Linked DNA regions of Homo sapiens: regions 1 and 2 are each reported to be linked to region 3. The links are microRNA targets in miRTarBase. Many come from high-throughput screens and were not tested one by one. Region 3 holds a microRNA gene; each other region holds the end of a gene's coding sequence.
The links. The annotated mature microRNA hsa-miR-1249-5p reads AGGAGGGAGGAGAUGGGCCAAGUU and lies in region 3 at 3,177-3,200, shown strand. An mRNA with a match to its seed (bases 2 to 7 or 8) in the 3' UTR can be bound and repressed. Matches are read on the target gene's strand: a 7mer-m8 pairs with bases 2 to 8, a 7mer-A1 pairs with bases 2 to 7 and ends in A, and an 8mer does both.

Region 1 (7,166 bases), not on the chromosome of region 3:
CCCCTCTCACCTCCTGTTCTTCACCCAGCTTTATTTTTCTTCTCATTTTCTGAGTTTATACCGTATACATATTTTTCATCCTCTGTTCGGGCTCCACCCAGAATGTCACCTCTGTGTCGGCAAGGACTTGGTCCATTTTTTTTTTTTTTTTTTTTTTTTTGCAGCTTTATCCAGAGCACCTGGCACATAGTAGGTGCTGCCACTTTCCATCTCAGCTTCAGGCATTCTTGGACATCATTTCCGAGGTCAGCTGCATTGCTGCAAAGAGACAAGCACACAGCTTTCTCCTGCTGGCTCGTAGGTGCGCAATAAAAATAGACTTTGTTTCACTCAGGGATTTCCAAATGGATCTAATTAGGGACTTTTCCACACCCACCCATTAAAATCCAGCAGAATACACTTGAGGAATCGCCAGGAAATCAAAAGTCCTGACAGCTGTGGCCTCCTGAGATTCACTGTCTTAGGACAAGCTGCTCCCTTCTGAATGTGCTGACAACATGGCATCAGACTGAAAACCAAACCAAACAGACTGACTTGACCACTCTCCATGATGGAGGGCCCAAGCCCTGGGCTAGGCTGACCCCGGGGGCTGCCTCAGTTGGCCTTCATTACGCGGCCTGGCTGCTGTTTCCCTGAAGCTGGCTTTCTGTGAAGATGCCTCACAGACTTGTGGCGTTTGGTGAATTTTCTCTGAACACACTTGTAGAAGTGAGTGTGAGGCTCATGCAGGGAGAAGCGCTTAGATCTCAGGTCAGTTTTCCATCCGACTGTGGCTTCATCACAGCTGCACTGTCCTACCTTCCTTCCCCTTCCCCTCCCTCCCCTCCCCTCCCCTCCTCCTTCCTTCCTTCCCTTTTTTTGAGACACAGTTTCACTCTGCCTTCCAGACTGGAGTGCAGTGATGCAATCCCAGCTCACTGCAACCTCCACCTCCCTGATTCAAGTGATTCTCGTGCCTCAGCCTCCCCAGTAGCTGGAATTACAGGAGTGTGCCACCACACCTGGCTAAATTTTGTAGTAGAGACAGGGTTTCACTATGTTGGCTAGGCTGGTCTTGAACTGCTGACCTCAAGTGATCTGCCCGCCTTGGCCTTCCAAAGTGCTGGGTTATAGGCATGAGCCACTGTGCCTGGCCCCCTTGCTTTGTCTGTGCCGGGTGCAGTGGGGGCACTTTACCTGTGTTGGTTTCAGGTACTCATCACAAAATGAGGAACTTCCATTTTGCTGGTGAAGAGATCGAGGCTCAGGTGGGAAGACTTTCTCCCACCCTCCATGCTTGCAGACATAACAAGGGCTGTCCTTCTGTAACTCCACACCAGAATATGCAGCATGGTTTGTCCTAGGAGCTAAATGGTCCTTGTCAGGGCCTTTACAATAAGAAAGAAGTCCACGAATCCTCAGAAGGGCTTTTCTTGTACTGCCTTTTAGAACCTGTGGTTCAGTTGATCCACACATTTCCAGCGATACAGCTGCGTCCCATTTTCAGTATCTCAGGACGCTTGTGGATTGATTTCGGCTTTGCCATCTCATGCTTGTCCATGCGGAAGTGAGTCATTTCAGGACATGTGGCTTCAAATAACAGAAGCCCACTCCAACTTGCTTAAGGAAAGATAGGCATTATTGAAAGCAGACTGGTGTGTTGTATATACCCAAAGGTCACAGTGTGTGGCCAGGCTCCCCAACCAGGAACTACAAAGCAGCAAATCTGTCTCTTTCTGTGGAGGGCTGTTTCCTCCGTGCCCTTCTGCTTCCTCCATCTCTTCCTGCAGGACTGGCTTTCTCTGTGCATGTGGCTACCCTGCAGCTTTCAAATGTATTGCACCCAGTTCAACTAGTCAGTCCCGAATGATCACCCAAAGGTGACTGTCACCCAAGGCCACAGGACCTGCTTTGGGAAGCAGTGCCCAAGCACGAATCTTCCCCATGAAGAGCAGGCTTTAGCTTCACTGCTGTATCCTGGAGCCTAGAGCAGTACCTGGCATCTAACAGGCACTGAGTAAGCAGTCGTGGAAATGGATGGATCCAGCTGGTTCAGCTGCACTCCCCAGGCAGTGGTCTACACTGCAGTCACAGTCATGCTCCAGTCTTGTGCCTTAAGCACCTGCTCGTGGCTCCCCTTCCCCAGAACTGCAACCAGTCAGAGGAAAGGAAAAATCAAAATCGAGGTTAGGTGGAGTACCAACTCTGGGCCCAGCACTGTGGACAATGGAAAGGCCATTCTGTCCTCAAGGATTTCAGTTAAATTCAAGATCAAAGCGGGCCAGGTACAGTGGCTCACACCTGTAATCCCAGCACTTTGGGAGGCCAAGGCGGGTGGATCACTTGAGGTCAGGAGTTCAAGACCAGCCTGACCAACATGGTGAGATGCCTTCTCTACTAAGAATACAAAATTAGCCAGGTGTGGTAGCACACGCCTGTAAGCCCAGCTACTTGGGAGGCTGAGGCAGGAGAATCGCTTGGGAGGCTGAGGCAGGAGGTGGAGGTTGCAGTGAGCCAAGATTGCGCCATTGCACTCCAGCCTGGGCAACAAGAGCGAAACTCGATCTCAAAAAAGAAAATAAAGAGAAGATCAAAGCTAAAGAAGGAAATTGACTGGGGGACACCATCTCTCAGCACAGTTGGGCTTCCCAAAGACCAAGGACCAGAAAGTCACCAGGAGGCAGCGGTCTCTGAGGCTCATTTTTCATGGCTGTGTATTTGAGCAGTTAACTCCATTCTCTGTCTGCAGAGTGGCTTCTCCTGCCTCACGTGTCCGTGACCCACCCTGATGGCCCCCAAACAGTCACCTAACCCCTGAGACCACATCACTCAGAACTGACCTCTCCATCCAAAGCTGGGCTCCTGGGAAAGACTTGCCTAGCCAAACTCAGCTTCTGATTGGTTCTCCCTGGGTATCCCGGATACATACCTCAGATCCAATCAGCTGTGACTTGAAAGCATGGATGTCACATGATCCCAACAAGCTGCTAAGATCTGTCCTTTTGAGTAGGGTGGGAGTGCTGAGTGGGACTTTAAAAAACTGGAATTCATTCAGATTTCTTCTTGCTGCTCTTTCATAGCCCTGGGGCCATTTGGGTTGCTACTTGCATTTCCCCCATGTTTGTGCTCTTATGTTTACATTAGGGACAAAAACATGATTGGGAGCAAAGAAAAGAACTAGTCTTCTGGTTCTTGCCTTCTTAGCTTCTCCCTTTTTTTTCCGCCTTCACTTCCCTCCCCTCCCTTCCCTTCCCTTCCTTTTCCTTCTCCTCCCTTCCCCTTCCCCTTCCTTTCCTTCCTTCCTTTCCTTCTTCCCTTCCCTCCCTTCTCCCTTCCCTTCCCTTCCTTTCCTTCTCTCCCTCCCTTCCTTCCCCTTTCTATTTATCTTCCTTCCTCCTTTCTATCCTTCTTCCTTTTTCTTCCTTTCTTCTTTTCTTTTCTAGTCCAAAGAGAAAGAGAGAGTCCTGAGGATGATAATGATAGCTCTGAACCAATAAACAAACAGGGCAAATGTGCTTTGAGGAATTTTGAGTAAAGGTGGCCTCCTGCTTTGACAGGTGGTTTTAACTCAGTACTGCAGAGAACTTCCTTGCCTCGAGGCACTATTTAGGACTCCAAACCTGTGGTTAAGGTTTCCAGCTAACATTCTTTCTGCCCATTTTAGAAAGAGGTGAGCCTAGGCTTTATATTGTGTATACCACATATCCATTATAATCCTCTGAATAATATGAATAATTTTCTACTTGATCATTTCCACACATACAAGCAGGGGTCCTAAATGCTATTTCCGTTGCACTCCTCTCTGTGGGAAGACTCATGAAGTGTTGAGGCCAAAGGGGGGCTGATATCGAGTGAGTTGAAGATTGAGCTCTGTATTGGTTTCCTATAACAAATTATTACAAACTTGGTGACCCATAACAACAGAGACTTGTTCTCTCACAGTTCTGGAGGCCAGAAGCCCAAAATCATATTAACTGGCCTGAAATCAAGGTGTAAGCGGGGACTGCATCCTTCAGGGGCTCTAGGGGAGAGTCCATCCCTTGCTTCTTCCTGATTCCGGTGTCTGCCGGCCTTCCTGGACTTGTAGATTGATCACTCCCATCTCTGCCTCTGGGATGACATTGTCTCCTCCTCTTCTGTATATACTCTCCCCGTCTTTTGCTTGTGAGGACATTTGTGGTTGGCATTAAGGGCCCACCTGGCAAACCCAGGACAATCCCATCATCTTCAATCCTTAATCACATCTGCAAAAACTTTACCATACGAGGTAATATTCACTGGTTCCAGGGATTAGGGTCTGATACCTTTGGGGACCACCAATCAGCCCACCCAAGCCTCACAACTCCTTCTCCCCCGTGGAGGATCTAGACTAGGGAGACACCCCAAAAGGTTTCTACCAGAAGCCAGATTGAGAGCTCTTCCAGAAAGTCATTTCTCAACTCATCTGGGTCCTTACTCTTCTCTTCTATTTTCCTCCCATTTATCCTCTGGTTTGGAAGAAGCACAGAAAGTAACAGGAAAGCAAGCCCAGCCCAGAGACATGAGACACAAAGAGCCATGGGTCGGCTCAGGAGTGGGCCGGGGAACGGACCAGGCCTCTGGGTGTCTGTCCCATGCCACAAAGCCAATCCCAACATCTCCCCTTTTAATAATGCATCGCATAAGGAAAGTGAAAGTTTCGAACTTTAGTCACTACTGCTAATCTTGAGATAAGAAGGTAACTCGGTGCCTGTCATCCCTTCCCTGTCCACCGGAGCTTGTTAGGAAAACATCTGGGCCTGGGAATTACTCTTCCAACCAGGTTGACACAGACTCCTCAGCAGGCTGGCTCCATGCCCACCAATAGCAGGAAGGCTTCCTTTGGACTTGGGTCTGTTTTCCCAGACACTCACTCCACGGTCAAGATCCTGACCCCAGAGGTCTCCATTCCCCTCCTATGTCCCCTCTTCAACAGCGTGCGATCCCCTGAGCATTTCTTATTCATTGCACTGCTTTTCTGAGCTGCATAGACTCACTTTCCCCCTCCAGGGGGACATGCTCACCCACCCCCTACACTTACATAGCCTGTCAGTTCTGGGGGCAGAGGACAGGCTGCACTGAGCTCCCTCCTGGGCCAGTTCTCAGCAGAGGGAGATAGGAAGGATGCCTAGACAGGTAGAAAGCTGCTGTTCAAACAACCAGAACTTTCTTTTGGGTGCATAGGTTGACAGAGACAACCTCTGAACTTGAGAAGTGCAAGTCTTCATTCAAAGTCTGGAAAAGCTCTTTACACTGAGCTGTATGGGGGGTGTGTAAGAACTCAGGCCTTGGAGCCAGGCAACCTGGGCTCAAACCCCAGCTCTACTGCTTACTAGCAGTGTGACACAGGGCACTTACATTAACCTAAAGCCTCTGTGAGCTGACAACAGAATGGCATTATTACCAGACTTGGGTCCAGACAAAATGGGGTGATGTGTGAAATGCTTAGCACAACACTGGGCATAAGTATTCAGTACATATTAGCTATTATTATTGCCATTTTCCCCTAAGAAAGTCAGTATTGGGAGAGCTGCTAAAGTAACTCAGCACCCAAATGTACTACATATAAAATATTTTATTACAAAAAGCTCCATTGCATGGCATTTCAAAAAGAACATTTCCTACAGTTTTCTTTCTTCTTCTTTTTTTTTTTTTTTTTGCTGTTACACAGAAGAGACTAGTTAAGTGTACCATTGAAGACTATTATGCATCACGTGCCTACGTTCATCAGGCCTTAAGCCCTCAAAGAACAACAGCATCAGGGGCTCTGCGAGAGCCGCCACCTGAGCCTCACCGCTTAGTTCATAAAACAGCCCTGTGTCCTTTCTACAAAGCCAGGTCGTGTTTTCTACCCACAGTTCAGGACTCCAGCGTAGACAGCAAACACAAAACTTGTTTCCTTTTTGAAACAAAACAGTCTTAGTAGAAGCAAAACAAACAACCACAATCTAAACCAGCCGCGAGGAACCCTTTCCTAGCTGGAAAGGAGAATGTGTCGCCAGCGATTCGGAGTGAAAAGGATGGGAAGATGCCTGTGCCACACCCTTGAATGTGGTCCACAGATTCACCAGCTCCAAGGCAGCATCTCTTTCCAAAGCACCTGCAGCAGGAGGCTGTGTGGGGCAACAAAGTCACTCCTGATACAGAGAATCCCCCCCCGCCCGCCGCCATCCAAATGGCTCCATGCACAGCTGGCCCCTCCGCTTCTCAACTGTGGCTCATGTGGCTTTGTTAGAGTCTTGGGGGTGAAAGGTGTGAGAGACAGGAGGGAGCGTGGCTCAAGTGGGGCCATTCAGTCGGGCGGCCGGGTGTCGGGGGCCTTCTCCTGGACTTCATCATACTGCGGTGGAGGAGTCAAAGGCTCTATCGAGGGAGGAGGGACGTTTTTGTCTGGGAGGTTGATCCTAAAGTCTTTGAGGTGAAGCTTTTCAGATTTAATCCTTCGAACTTTCAGCGGTTTCAGTCGTTTGGCCAACTTAGAGTTCTGCCTGTCAGGGGGGTTCCCAGGGCTGGCCTCCACGTCAGCCCTGGTGGATGTGGGGGTGGTCTCGTCGAGCCCCGTCAGTGACTCATAGGACGGGAGAGAGATGCTCAACCTCGGGTTCTGCTCCTCTCCCCTTGCTTCTGAGTAGTTTGTGTTCATCACTTCCTCGTAGCTGGGAACATAGTACCTTGAGGCAGCCTCCTCATCCTCCTCTTCTTCCTCCTGGCTGCAAGAAGACACACAGACAGGGAGAGTGTTAGCCTGTGCTCAAGTCATTCAAAATCCCAAAGGGATGGGCTCCAAAGAGTCCACACACAGCAGCCTTGTAAATAACAAATGGGTCTTAGAGGCAATAAAAGTGAATACTTCAAGTGTTTACTATGAGCTGGGCTCCCTTCTAAGTATTTTAGCAAATATGAACCAATTTCAGATTCCTGACAACACTATGAGTTAAGTACTAGTCATGCAGGACAGGACAGGTGAGTCCCCAAATTGGGGCTTAGCCTGGGAGGGTTCTTGGCTTCATCAAGGAAGGAATTCAAGGGTGAGCCAGTGGTGTTAGACCACAATTCTTTATTGAAGGGCACTGCTTCTTGTGGAGCAGGGCTAACTCATAGGCAGTACACCCTGAGTTGGCCACATAGGGGCTCTTGGAAATTGTATTTATACCCACTTTTAGTCACAT
Region 2 (7,188 bases), not on the chromosome of region 3:
GTGCAGGGAGGAGGGAGAGGGAAGGGGATGGGTTAAGAAGGAGTGTGTGATGTCAAGCAAAAAAGACAACATTAGACACAGATGCTGAGATGGCGTTTATCGCGGCAAAAAAAGGTGAAGTCGCCGAGGGGAAAGGGGTGGGGAAAGGGGGTGTGGTGGGGGCTGGGGTGGGGGCCATGGAAGCTAATACATGGTGCACTAGGTCACACAACGGACACTGGGGGTGGGTGAGTGGGTGGGGTGGGCGTGGCCCAGGCATGGCAATGTGGGGAGTGGGAGGAGACGGCAGTGCACCCCAGCCAGGAGCTTCTGGAGGTGGTGGGCAGGAGGCGGGCGGCGTCTCTGGTCGCAGAGGATGGAAGGAATCAGTTAGAGGGGGTTGAATGGAGGCACTGGAGGCATGGCCACATTCCAAGAAATGGAATGAAGGAGTGGGACAGCAGGCAGGGGGCCAGCCTGGGGCCTGGGCCTTTTAATCTAAGGACTGGGGAGAACCAAGGGACCTTAGAGGTCCTCCAGTCCTCCCCATATTCCAAGAGGGAGAACAAGCCTGGAGAGGAGGCTACCTTAAGGTCCTAAGAAGGATTTAGCAATCGGTTCTCCAAAGATGGCCCTGCAGCCTCCCCTGTCCCCCATTCTTCTGCTACCCTGTCTCCAACAGAGAAAGGGGGAAGAGAGGTTCTAGCTCCTCTGACTCCACCATTATCTCACTGAGGCTCCTCAGGGAAATTGGAGGATGAATCCATTTCACAGAAGGGGAAAACGGAGGCATCCTCCCAGACTACACCTTTCCACACCTCTCCCACCACCCTGCCGGGGAATCTATGCACCCCATCCCTCTAGAGTAATACTGATAGCTTGAAATCCTTAGCGATGGGGACAGGTGAGGGGACATACCTTAAAATTCTCCCAAATCGACCCGGGATGTGGGCCATGCCTCCAGTGGCCTGAGATGCCAACATAAAGAAAAGAAAAATGACTCCCCACGTCCCCTGGCTCAAACCCAGTACAAAAGTGACTATTTACAATGAAGGCGTGGGGAGTGTGTGGGGGGCACACGAAGGAGGGGGTCAGAGTGAGCGCTCCATTTGAGGGAGGCCACGCCCCTGGACCCGCCTTTTAAAGGGACAAAGCCAAATAGCATAGATATTTATAGAGGATGTCAATCCCCAGGGTGGGGCAGACCCTAGGGGTGAGGGATGGGGGTGGGGCATGGGATGGGGTGCGGGTGGGGAGGCATGGGTGGTGGGAGGAGATGGAGGAAAGGTAGCAACTGCCCCTAGCCTCCCCCCTCCCCCCTGCCGGACACACAGTTTTCCGTGGGATGAACACAGAAAGGGTTAATCAAAAAGAGTTCGATGAGCGAGTCTGACGGTCGAGTGGGGCGGGCTGGAGCAATGAGGCCGCAGGTCCCGGTGGCCGGTGGTGATGGAGTCACTTAGAAGATGAGAGGTTGGTGGTTTTGGGGGGAGAGGTGGGGTAGGGAAAGGGGTGGGGGAGGGGGGGTTAGGCAGTCCCCCCCCAGTTATCTCTGGGAGACAAGTGTCCTGGACTGGTTGAGAAGGGATTAAAAACCAGCAGCCTTCACCACCATGACCCCACAGATTCTCTTCCCATTTCCCTCCCTGCCACCCAGCAATCTCCAATGCAACTTGCAGGGGACACTAAGACAGACCATACACACCAGCAGTGGCGCCCGGAGACAAGCCCTCTCCAACCACGGCGTGGAGACAGCTGACCACAGTGCAAACGGATCGCGATAGCAGGGCTGGGTGTTATCACCCCAGTAAACCAGTGTCCCTGGCTCGCCTGTGCCCCAGCTTGGGTATCGCGATCCCGTTCTCCCCATCGTGACATCCAGTCCAGGCTTTCAGGACAGCGAGCCCGGTTTCCAGGCAGGTGCTTGTCGAAGGCCTGGCTGGCTGTACCGACAGGCGGGCACTCAGTCAGCAGCCTGGACGCCCCAACTGCCATCCTCATCGCCACTCTTGTTAATACTTTTGCCACTGCACAGTCTATCACAGCCTCTAATCCCGGTCCTGAAACAGCAATCATCCATTCAGGGGGACTCCTCTCATTTTCCAAACAATTGGCCACCAATCAAAACAAAGTAAGAAGGAGGATGTGGGATGGAGGAACAGGGAGGAGAAACAGAATGAGGGGATATTGAAGGATTTGGTGGTCCAGAGGGGAGAGGAAATACACCTCGGAGATAAGCGACACCCTGGTGTTCCAAGTAGAGGTCCCCAACCATCTATAGGTCGGCTTTTATCAACATCCACTTGGGATACCCATAATTCCCAACTACAAGTCCAGGGTAGGCGTTAGGGCAGATAGAAACGGCAAAATCATTGTCTTCTGATCACCACCCCTACTAATTATTGCAGTGAAGCCTCCTTGCCCATGTAGAGGTGGCTGGGACAGGGCAGAAGAAGGTGGCTGGGCAGGTTGGCTCAGAGCCCCCTGAGATGGGGGATGAAGGAGGTTAATTTGGCACATCGAACCCCCTCTTCTCATAGGAGCTTTGAGGTCCTTCTCTTGAATCCAGTTGGTACCGCCCCTTGGGCTAGCAGAGGAGGAGTTGAGCTTGTCTCCTCCTCCCCAGTTTCCATAGATTTGCCAGGAAGTTGGCAAGTGGGATTCTCCTTGGCTGGTGGAATTTGGGGGGACCCAAAAGGATAGGGGTAAGTTGAAAAGGAGAGCTTTTTTCTGTCTTTTTTTTTTTTTCTTACAAAGATTCTAAGAAAAACTCAGGGTGGGAGGGCTGTGGAAGGGGGACCCAATTTAGCTCCATGTCCACACTTTTGCAATGCCTCTTAGGGACCTCCTCAAAGAGAAATGGTCCCATTTCCTCCCCTCTATCCAAGGTCCTCTCCCCCCAGAGCGGCTCAGTTCCAAGGAAGTTTGGCACTTTTTTTTTTTTTTAAATGGGGAAATTGGGGAGAGAGAGTTGAGACATTTGAGGAAAGGAGGAAGACAGACAAAGACTAAGATAGAGACAGGACAGAAAACAATGGGAACCACACGGAGGAAAAAAAAATAGAAAGTCATAGGGAGCCAGACAAAGAAAGGGAGGAAGACACTTGGAGAAGGTATGGGAAGCTAGAGGGCAAATGAGAAGGAATAGGGAGATAATCCAATGCAGCAAACACTTATTAAGCACCTACTGGGTGCTGAAGAGAAGGGTGCAAGGAGGCCACTCAGAGACTCTGAGATCGGATTGGCTAATAGGGAGACGGGGAAAAAAAAAGAGATGATGGGTTTTTCAATAATCCTCATCCCTGACCCCACATCTGTGTCCCCTCTGGACAAACTGCAGCACAAAAGATTGAGGTCAGATTGCAGAAGGGACTTTCAAGAGATGGCAAAGATGGTGGAGTGAGTTTCCCAAGGTAAAATGGGGAAAGGTGTGGCTCTCTGCTCACCAACATGGTGAGTGAACTAGCTCACTGAGCTAGCAAAGTATACCTTTCAGATCACCCTGGCTGGCTGGGTAGGGGGTCCCCAAGAAATATGAATAGGGAGGGGTTGTTACACAGACACCCCAAGCAAACACTTTTCAGGAGGCCCAGCCTCCGGAGATGTGTCTGTGTGAGAGGAGTCCTGGACCCGGCTGATTGGGACCCAGACTCCAGTGAATGAGTTTGTAGAAAGCGGCTGCCAAGCGGAGGATGCAAATGATATGCAAATGAGTTCATTCAGATCCCACCTCCCCAGTCCCAGACCTTACTTCACTCTCCCTGGCTCCTTCCCTTCCTCATAGGGTCCTGGGGGGCTGTAGGGGGATATTCCAGCTAGATACTGTAATACTCGCGTGCGGGTAGAGATACTGTGAAATACTGTAAGGTCTTTTGAGAGGTGGAGGGGAGCAATGGCCCACAGAGCCGCCCCCACCTCTAACCCCAAGAGCCCCCAACGGTAGTAGAAGATATGTACAAAGTTACATCAAGAATTGTTTTGGCACTCAGATCTCCATCTGGGTTCAGTCTGGAGATTAGGGGTGGGGCAACAACAATGGGAAGTGGGGGATAGGGGAGGGGAAGTGGGGCCTGCCTCCCACCCTGGAGATGACAAGGGCATGGAAAAAGTCACCCCAGTGCCCAAGTTACAGCCTCCCATCGGGTGGAAGGGCTGGGGTGGGAAATTCAGTGCAAGGTACCTCGAAGGCTATTGCTTTCTAGGGATTTTCACATTTTGATTTGGGGGTGGCTCTCTAGCAAGGGAGAGGGATCTCCTAGGCTTTAGGGGCAGGAATTGTCTCTGTGGCTTTTCTTCCCTCCTTTTTTAGGAGAGAGACAAGGAGGCTGGATTTCCCCCAAAGTCATAGAGAAGAAAAGGGTTTGGAAGACCTAGGAGGCGGACAAATGGGGGAGAGGGTGGGCATGGGGCGCCCCTCCCCCAGAGATGCTGATGATGGAACCAGGGCACTGGGCGCCCTGCTTTGGGTTGGAGAAAGTGGAGGTGGTCTCCAAGGAAGAGAGGGAGATGGGTGGGGGTAGAGGGAGGTCTCAGCTATCCTAGTCTACATGGTTGTCAGGCCCTGAAATCTCAGTCTGCCAACAGGTCCTTAGAGCTGACCACAGCCACAGCACTCAGGGAGCCACTCCTAAACCAACTCTCAAGGCCGCCTGGCTTGTCAGACTCCATCAGAACATTCTAGTTCTCCAGAGCCCCTGGTGAGCACACCAAAACATTCTGATCCATCAGACATCACCGAAGTATGCCAGCTTGCTGGAAGCCACCAAACCAATCTAACCTATCAGACCACACGAAGCATTCTGGCCCAAGGGACCCTACTATGGCTCACTGAACTCTACACCTGGCCATACTGGCCTGACAGAGCCACCACACACTTGGCTCACCCGATTCAATGAAACAAAGCCACGCAGACACAGGCATGCACACAAAAGGCAGGGGTGGGAAGGGAGGTCTTTAACAGTAGTTTGCACTAGGTCCATCTCCCACCCCTCCCTCCAGGGCGAGTTCGCAGACTTGACGTGTTTGAATGGAGATGACCCTGACAATATTGGTTTTTTTCCGTTAGAGTCCTCCAGATTGGATCCAAGTCCCGTGCCTTATTCTCTTCCTAGGAAGACCCCCAGGCCAACACCCACCAAAGAAGGGTGTGGAGGGAGAAGGCAGGTCAGAGACTGGTCACTGTCCAATACAGGAAGTACATGCTTCAGCCTAATGACATCACAGGACGTGACCTCTAGGCATCACCGGAAGTACACCTTCCCATGATATCACCAAAGTGACCTTCAAGGAAGAACTCATTGAGACATCACAGGAAGTACCTGCTCCCTTATGTTCACAGGAAGTAACCTCTGAGGAACTGCTTCCTGTGACATCATAAGGGGTGCCCAGAAGCACCCCAGAAAGTACTCAGTGACATCACAACAGAGACCCTCATTGCCATTACTCTAAGCCATCAGAGATACCACACCAAGTTGATCCAGCCTCTTGCAAGTCTTGCCCACAGGACTGGCCCAATCCCAGAGCTGGCATCCTTCCCAGCAGCACTGTCCCTGCCCCCCCATACAACCTGACAACAAAAGAGTGAACATTCCCACCTAGGAGGGACAGCTCCAGTGGGAGGAGAGTAGCTGAGAAGATCTGGGAACTCTGGGGTCCTTGCTCCAAATGCCCCATTTCAGCTCAGACGCCTCTGCTACCTCTACTCCCATGGCTTCCCTCAGATCTAGAACTGAAAGCAGAGAGGTGGGGTGTTGTGTTTTGGGAAGGCCCCTCATTCTGGGTGACCCAGAGGCTCCCTCCCCTCCTCCCATATGGAAACAAAAACTTATAAAGGGGGAAAAAATCCTTACCAAAAAAAAAAAAAAAAAAAAAAAGGAGGGAAAGAAAGAGAAAATAACGCTTTGTTTTCTATTAAAATCAACAAAATGCAATATATACAGATATCACACAGACCTGGGCCCTGGGACAGGAAGGGTCAGGCCCAGCCAAGCACAGGGAGGGAGGAAGGAGGGGTCAGTTCCGGGCTGGGGAGGGGGCTTCTGAGCCCCCTTCCCAACCGTCACTCAATCCTGCCTATGACTACCAGAAGGGGAGGGTGCAGTCGGGCCTACCCCAGCCCCATCCCAAGAGGAGCAGGACTACACCAAGCTGAGGTCAGGAGTTGGGGGGGAGGAGGAGAGGGAAGAGGAGGAGATGGGAGGAGAGAAAAGGGTGGGAGCACACACCACAGGCCTCATCCCACTTTCTGGGGGTTTGAGGCCCTCACTCCCTGCTCGTAGGTGACCCGCTGACTGATGAGGTATTGAGCGGCTTGCGTGGCCGCGGGGCTGCCCGTGATGGTGACCCGCCGGTTCCGCGTGCCTGGCAGGAACTCGCCCTTCTTGGAGATCTGGATGCGAGCGCCCGTCAGCTCCTGGTACTCCACCAACGTCTTGCCCCCCTTCCCCAGGATGGCTCCCACCAGGTTCTCAGGCACCGCAATCTCCACCAGCTCCTTGGCACTCTCAGCCGCCAGCTTCTCCGCCGTCAGGAAGCCCCCGGCCGCCCCGGCCGCGGCTGCAGCGGCCACCAGCGGGCCGCCCCCTCCGCCCGCCCCGCCGCCCGCCCCGGCCCCGAGGTAGCCGTTGGCGGCTGCGGCCAACGCAAAGGACCCCAGGGCTCCGGGAGGCGGGGGCGGCGGCGGGGCGGCCCCTCCGGCTGGCCCGGCCCCGGCCTCGCCCGCGTAGGATGCCAGGAGGTTGGCGGCGGCGGCGGCTGCTGGGTTGGCCCCGGCGGCCACGGCGGCCAGGACGCCGGAAGCTGCGGCCGAGTTGAGGCCCAGGCCCAGGGAGTTGGTGTTGTAGCCGTAACTTGCCAGCGTGTTAAGCGCCGTGCTGATGGCCAGCAGGTCGGTGCCTGAGAAGGCGGGCAGCGCGGCGGGAAAGGCCCCCACGCCAGCCAGCCCGGCGGGGCCCAGCAGGCCGGAGGCGGCGGCGGCCGACGCTGCGGCCGCGGCTGGCAGCACATCCGCGGGGCTGGCGTACGGAGAGCCGGTGGGGTTGGAGTTGGCCACGGGGCCTGCCACGTTGGCGTAGCTGATGTTGAGGCAGCTGCTGCTCTGGGGGTCTTCTTGTACCTTCTGCACGATGGCGCTCACGGCCTTGTGCACCTGCTCGGGCTCGCCGCTGACCGTCACCACGCGCTCCTGCAGGTTGATGCCCTCCGGCTTCT
Region 3 (7,168 bases):
TCCCCTGCTGCTCAGCCCCTGCCCCAGTGTGAGGCTGTTCTTGTCCTGTGGGGCTCGGAGGGCATGGGGCCACAGGAGTGTGTGACAGCCGGTTGTCCCCTGCAAAATGGGGTTTTCTGAGCAGCCCTCCCTGCCAGTTGGGCCAGGCTGTGGTGTGGGCGGTGGGAGCTGATGGTCACGTCCCTGTCTCTTTGTGTCCTGGCCCAGGTGTTCAGCGACATGACCGTAGGGGAAGGAGAGATGGTCTGTGTGGAGCTGGTGGCTAGTGACAAAACCAACACGTTCCAGGGGGTCATCTTTCAGGGCTCCATCCGCTACGAGGCGCTCAAGAAGGTGTATGACAACCGGGTGAGTGCGGGGCGGCCTCACGGGTGTTCTTCTGGGCCCGGGGACGGCGGCTCCACAGCCCACCGTGGTCCATACCATGGGGCCCCCCAGCCTGCTTGTGCATGGTAGCGGCCGCCAGGGGTACCTGCAGCCCCTCCGGGCTCCTTCTAGGCGCTCCCTGGTCCTCTTAACGTCATTCTTCATGGTCGGCCTCAGCCCATGCGGGCCACTTGCCTTCATCTGAAATGTGAGCGGGAACTTCCTCCTCAGTCTCTAGTTCCCTGGGAAGTGATGGCTGATGGTGTCGCTGTCACCTCCTCACTGTCACTTGCTTCCTGCGACTGGCCCTGGGAGTGCTCCGAGTCGCCCCCAACTAAGCAAGCAGATGTGGGCAGGCCCCTCTCCCCCAGCGGGCACCATCCGCAGCCAGCCTTGCTGCCAGCCTGGGGCCCTGTCCTCAGCCTGGTCCGTGGTTCATGGGGCGGTGGGAGGGGCACCAGGAGGGGCACCAGGCAGAGATGTGGGTCCATTCCAGCTGCCCCGCCTGCCAGCTCAGACGCTCCCTCCCGGGCAGCCCCCGCTCCTTGAGGGATGGTCGCCCTGGCTGTTCATGTCCTGGGGAGGGGCCCCATGGAGCCATCGCCACCTCCCTGACTCAGGCTGCCCCGCGCCGGCCCCCAGGTGAGCGTGGCCGCCCGCATGGCACAGAAGATGTCGTTTGGCTTCTACAAGTACAGCAACATGGAGTTTGTGCGCATGAAGGGCCCCCAGGGCAAGGGCCACGCCGAGATGGCGGTCAGCCGAGTGTCTACAGGTGACACATCCCCCTGTGGGACTGAAGAGGACTCCAGCCCAGCTTCGCCCATGCACGAGCGGGTAAGGGCTGCACAGCTGGGGGCGGGGGCTCCCATCCGTCAAGTTCACTTTCCACCGTCTCCCCCGTGCTCACGGCCCCCTGGGGACATAGGTGTTGTCATCCCCAACCACCAGTGCGCAGGCCGAGGTGCCGAGCGTGCGGAGGCCCGGACCACCCAGCCCTTCTCTTTGCCTAGCGGTTTGTAGGAGGCACTGCCGCAGGGGAGGCGTTCCTGCCTTGCAGACCTGGAGGGCTGTGCCTGGCCAAGGTCACACCGCAGGCTGGTGCTGGGCCAGAGCTCTTTCTGCCTCCCTGAGATGCCACAAAGCCAGGCTGAGTCCACAGAGCCAGTGGGCAGAAGAGACTGGCTGGGGACCCAGGCCCGGCCCTGGCGCCTGCCTGGGTGGACCTGCTGGGTGAGCGTGGGCACGTGGCCGGCCTTCCCCGGTGAGTCAGATGGGGATGATGGTGACTGAGGGTCAGCCAGCGCATGCAGAGGCCTAGGCCACCCAGCTCTTTGCCCCGCGGTTTGTAGGAGGTTCTGCTGCAGGAGAGGCGTTCCTGCCTCGCACAGCCGGAAACCAGACTTGCCAGCTTGCCCCAGGTCACAAGGTCTCTTGGGATAGCACTGGGCTTGGGGCCCTGCTCTGCCTAGGCCACTCTCCTTCCCCAGGGCGGGAGGCTGAGGTCAGCAGCAGCTTTGTTCCCAGAAGCCTTTGGTGGGGCACAGGCAGGAGAAGGTCTCCAGCCCACTGGCTGCTTTGCTCTACCTGGTTCTTCCAGAGGGACTGCCCAGAGCTGTAGTTCTTGGAAGAGTACAGGTGTGCTGGGCAGGGGGGTGCCCTTGGCACAGGTCCAGGGGCAGTCTTGCCCAGCCATTGTCCAGGAGAGACGCCACCCACAGCCAGAATCCTGCTCTGCTGCTCTCATAACCTTGGGTGTGTCTCTTTTCCTCTCCAAGCCTCAGTTTTCTCATCTAGAAACAGGGCACGAGGATACCTGCTCCTTCAGTATTTGGGAGGCTTTGAGGAATCCGGGGCTTGGCCCTCAGGAGGATTCCCAGGTGGCAGCTGCAGTAGTTGCTGTTGACCTACTTGGAAAGCAGAGGCGTGGGAATGTAAACGATGCATTACCGCAGGCATGCCTGAGATGAGGGAGTGTGCGTTTGTTATACTTTTAGTTCGAGAAAGATCTGAATCATGCATATCTCCGGGTGGTCAGATGTTGGTTTTCTTTCTCTTCTGTATATCTTTTTTTGGGGGGGAGGTATCTTCTGCAATGAATGTGTTTTGCAAGCCAAAGACAGCAAGTGCTATTTTTTGCAAAGATGGGTGAGAATTCCAGGCAGGGGCCTCTCTTGTCTTTGGAATGAGGTGGTTTATATTTCTGAGTTTGTTTCCGAGATAAAGGGCCTGGTTCTTCTCCCTGGTCCTAAATTATGCCCTGGGACTCTGACAAAATGTGTGTGTGAAAGTCCTTACGAAGATGTGGCCCGAGCTCTGGGCTGGACAAACCCGGGTGCCACCTCCAGCCACAGCCTGAGGGCTGAGTGACTACAGGTCACTAGACCTGCCTGAGCCTTGGTTTTCCCATCTGTCCAGCGGGAGTGGCTGTGAGGGGTGTGAAAGTCCCTGGTGCCTTAGCAGCTGGGCAGCCCTGGGATTCAGGAGGAGGGATGTGCTAGGGTCACACAGGGTCAGCAGCAGGGCTGGCCCCTGGGGACTGCCGCCTGTGCGCCTGCTATTACCTGTCTCCTTCTCTGGCGGGGTCGTCTGGAGCCAGTGCGTGACACATGCTGACTCTGTGTATTGTGGTTGCTGCTGTTTGTTTCTTTTATCTTTTAAAAACCTTCCCCGGCTTGTGGGAACACCGTCTGGAGCCCAGCAGCTGCCAGGACTTTGGTGGATGTCGGAGCCGTGACGAGGAGGCTGACGGGGCTCCCGAAGTCTCAGTCCCAGCTCATCCTGCTCCTCAGATTATTGTTGGCATGGGGAGGAGGGAGGAGATGGGCCAAGTTCCCTCTGGCTGGAACGCCCTTCCCCCCCTTCTTCACCTGGCGAACTCCTACTCGTCCTTCAAGACCCAGCTCCAGCGGCATCTCCTCCAGGAAGCCTTCCCTGATTTCCCAGGCTGTGGATCCCTTTTGCCTCTGTGCTTCATGTATCCTGTGCTTCTCTTTCTCTGTCTCCACAGCCAGCATGCTGTCTATGGTTGTCACTCTCTGAGTCTGTCACCCCAGCAGACTGTGAGCTCCTTGAGGGCAGGGACCTGCAATGTGCCTGTCTGTCCTTAGTGCTGTGCCTGCCTGGCCCTGAGTGGGTGTGAATGTTTGGTGAACAGAACCAAACGTGATTAGAAGTGGGGAGAAGACAGAGGCATAGAGCTACTTAGCACAGTATTTCCTGTGAAGGGTGCTGGGAATGAGAGGGATGGGGCCACGTCAGCCCTGAGAAGTAGGATGAGGAGCGTGGCCCTGGGGGACAGAAGACAGGGCTGCTGCCGTCCTGCTTGGTGACCACAGGCAAGCCAGGGTCTCGGTCCCTGCCTTAGTTTCCCCATGTGTCAGATGGGCTGACGCTAGCCCCTGTCTCACGGAGCTGGAGGCTCAGAGGGTCTGTGTGTGGGGCCAGTGCTCACTCAGCGTCAGCAGCTGTTGTTACTTTGTGCTTGAACACCCCCTACCCACTGTTTGAGGCCCAGAGGAGGGGGGTCTTTCTGCCATTTGCGGCAGCAGCCTGGCCCCTCCTCGGGTAGCACTGGTGGCCAGGTGTCCTGCTGGCCCCTGGGCTGGAACGCATCTTCCAGTCTCTAGGCCCCACCTAGCACGGGCCGGCTGGGCCTGGGTCCTCCTGGGCCAGCGGCCTCTTCCCTGGGAGCTGTGTCAGGTTGTTTGAGGGTGGGATAGGAGGGGCGTTGGGACCCCCGGGGAGGGGGCTGTTCTGCTACTCTGGTGACTTTGGCTGCTTGTTCCCAGGTGACCTCCTTCAGCACACCCCCCACCCCAGAACGGAACAACCGGCCTGCCTTCTTCTCCCCATCCCTCAAGAGGAAGGTGCCCCGGAACCGGATCGCTGAGATGAAGAAGTCGCACTCGGCCAACGACAGCGAGGAGTTCTTCCGGGAGGACGACGGTGGAGGTGACCCCCCACTCCGTGCCCTAGGGTCCCCGTGCCCTTCAGTCTCTTCTTGATCCAGACCAGTCATTCATTCATTTATTCATTCATTCATTTGTTCATTCAGCAGCACTTAGAGAGTGGGTGCCATGTGCCAGGCAGCCCTCCAGGAGCTGAGGGGTAGAGCTGGGGACAGGCAGAAATGGCTGCCTCTGGGGGTCCCGTCCTGGTGGGCTCAGGCGTCTCCTTGGCAGAGTGCTTGGAGCGCAGATGTGCAGCAGTTGGTCAGTTTCAGGGGATTTCCCACCTTTCTAAGGCTTTTCAGCCTGCTTAAGGAAGAAAGCGGATGGGTGATCTGATGGCTCCGCACACACGGGGTGTGGCGGGAGAGAGGAGGGCTTCCCTCCCTTGCGCTGCCTTGGGCCAGCTCGCCCTCAGGGTGAGGCCTGGCCCTCCTGGCTCTGTGCAGCCTCCCAGAACCACGTGCTCTTTGGTGACACAGTCGCCACCTCGTGCAGCCTACCCCCGGGGCCTTCCTGTGCCCCTGTCCCCTGGACTCCGGTTGTCTGTATCTGGGTGTTACCATGCCCCTTAGTCCTGCCCAGGCACAGTCTGCACTCTCTCCTGAGCACCCGTGCCTGCTCCCTGTCCTCGCTCAGTGACCTTCCAGAATACAGGAGTTGTTCCCAGAGCCCCCAGGGAGGCCTCTGAGGGGTTTTAAGCAAGGGAGTGACACAATCAGATTAGCATATTTAAAATGCCACTCAGCAGTCTCTGTGGGAAATGGCTCCTGGGGACAGGCGTGGCCGTCACAGACAGGTTGGGAAGTTCTGCCATGCTCTGCTGGCATGGACCACGTGCCTTCCTCACTGTCATCCTCAGGACCCAGCGGGCGCCTGGCTCCGCACTGTGTGCGTGTCTGTTGAGTGTATGGAAGTGAAGGATTGGCCAGGCACAGTGGCTCACCCCTGTAATTCCAGCACTTAGCGAGACCGAGGCGGGTGGATCACCTGAGGTCAGGAGTTCGAGACCAGCCTGGCCAACATGGTGAAACCCTGTCTCTACTAAAAATACAAAAAATTAGCCGGGCATGGTGGTGGGCGCCTGTAATCCCAGCTACTCAGGAGGCTGAGGCAGGAGAATCTCTTGAACCTGGGAGGCAGAGGTTGCGGTGAGCCGAGATCGTGCCACTGCACTCGAGCCTGGGCAAGAGTGAGATTCCATCTCAAAACAAACAAAAAAAAACGACGTGAAGGATTCGCTGACAACTCCCACTGAGCACCTCCCCCAGCAGGGAGCAGGGCTGCAGCATTGATCAGAAGAGGTGGCAGTCTTTGTCCTGACCACTGGGACCAAGAAGCAGGGGTGTCCCACCTGCTCAAGGCCCTGGCCTGGGTCAGGGACTCCAGCACTGGCCTCGACCTGCTCTTGTGTGAACTTGGGCAAGCCCCTTCCCCACCTGGGCCCGTTCCCGAATCAGTAAGAAGTACTGATCACTGCCCTAGTCTGCCTCTCTGGGGCAGGTTCCCCCAGCCTGGACCGCAGGACTGGGTAATGGTGCAGGTCGGCTCAGCCTTGCTGCTCCCATGCTCTGCAGGTGGCGGTGCCTAGTTCCAGGGACAGGGCCTGCAGAAGCAGAGAATTACACAGTGTGTGTGCCAGAACCCCCGGAGGAGACTAAGCTTGTGACAGAGAAGAGAGAGATGAGGGGGGTGGCCAAAGTCTTCCTGGAGTTGGAGGCCTGGGTCTGGGCCAGAGGAAGCAGGGAGGGGTGTTACAGGCGAGGAGGCAGCAGCTCTGGAGCGTGTGGGTGCTGGTGTGGGGGTGTTGGTAAGGAGCGTCCTGGCCTCAGCAGAGTTTGGCCTCAGCCTGGACTGGGAGCTGGCCTCCTGCTGCTCCCGCCGCGTCCCATGCTGTGGGGGCCTTGACCTGGCCTTCTTTCCTCCAGCCGATCTGCACAATGCAACCAACCTGCGGTCTCGGTCCCTGTCGGGCACAGGACGGTCCCTGGTCGGGTCCTGGCTGAAGCTGAACAGAGCAGATGGAAACTTCCTTCTCTATGCACACTTAACCTACGTCACGTTGCCGCTGCATCGGATTTTAACAGGTAATGCTGGCGGATGTGGGGAAGCAGCCGCACCTTCTCACAGCCAGCTCTGCCTCCAGGGCCTTGGTACTTGTGAGCCACCCGGAGTCATCCCGCCCTGTCCTGTCGGTTGGTTGGGTTTCTTTGCAGGGCTCTTGGCCTCTTTGTCTCAGACTTTGGGTGGAGCCGTAGCTTTCCCAGAGCTGAAGTCCTCCCTTTGTTCACCTTTCTGGCGCACCTGCTGTCCCCTCTTGAGTGGCCACAGATGCCCAGGTGTGTGTTACTCACGGGCGAGGGGAGGCTCTCAGGCCACCTCGCTGACCCAGGCCTGCAGCAGCTGTGACAGGCAGTGGCTCTGGCCCCCACACCAGCTTGCACCTGAGGCCCTGCAGGGTGTGCCGTTGCTGCGAGCCCATTTCCCAGTCTGCAGGGTGAGGATGGTGGAGACACGTCTCCTCTGCAGTCTGTGAGGCCTGGAGAGGAGATGCATGAGTGGCTGAGGCGGGCTTCCTTCAGAAGTGGCACTGCCGTGACCATAGCACTCACCGCTGTTGAGGGTTACTGTTTCACCTGCTTCCCTCCTGCCGGCCCTAGACATCCTGGAAGTTCGGCAGAAGCCCATCCTGATGACCTAGCCGCGTGCGGAGCCTGCGCAGAGCCCCGGCCGGGCCCAGCCCTCGGAGTGCTGCCAAGTGCCTACCTGTCCACCGCCACCGGGGTCTGCGATGGCACGCCAGTGCTGGAGCCGCAGCCAGGCGAGGCCACTCGACTCCCGGGGCCGGGGCC

Region 1: the mRNA of TMEM51 is a reported target of hsa-miR-1249-5p. Seed matches in the 3' UTR shown: 7mer-m8 at 6,262-6,268.
Region 2: miRTarBase lists NOVA2 as a target of hsa-miR-1249-5p. Seed matches in the 3' UTR shown: 7mer-m8 at 5,974-5,980, 7mer-m8 at 5,853-5,859, 7mer-m8 at 5,577-5,583, 8mer at 5,127-5,134 and 7mer-A1 at 3,860-3,866.

The regions. Positions count from the first base shown.
Region 1 is chr1:15,218,867-15,226,032 of GRCh38, reverse strand. TMEM51 (transmembrane protein 51) reads right to left here. Exons shown (of 4, transcript NM_001136218.2): 4 at 5,555-6,707. The coding sequence ends at 6,290. Among named protein-coding and RNA genes, the nearest start is that of FHAD1, 25 kb to the left of the region's middle.
Region 2 is chr19:45,933,652-45,940,839 of GRCh38, forward strand. NOVA2 (NOVA alternative splicing regulator 2) reads right to left here. Exons shown (of 4, transcript NM_002516.4): 4 at 83-7,188. The coding sequence ends at 6,212. Among named protein-coding and RNA genes, the nearest start is that of NANOS2, 22 kb to the left of the region's middle. RefSeq lists a cis regulatory region at 6,072-6,171.
Region 3 is chr22:45,197,025-45,204,192 of GRCh38, reverse strand. MIR1249 (microRNA 1249) reads left to right here and starts at 3,174; the gene lies at 3,174-3,239. KIAA0930 reads left to right here. Exons shown (of 10, transcript NM_001009880.2): 6 at 208-348; 7 at 1,009-1,203; 8 at 4,158-4,320; 9 at 6,245-6,403; 10 at 6,977-7,168. The coding sequence ends at 7,017. RefSeq lists a cis regulatory region at 1,794 and an enhancer at 1,722-1,866.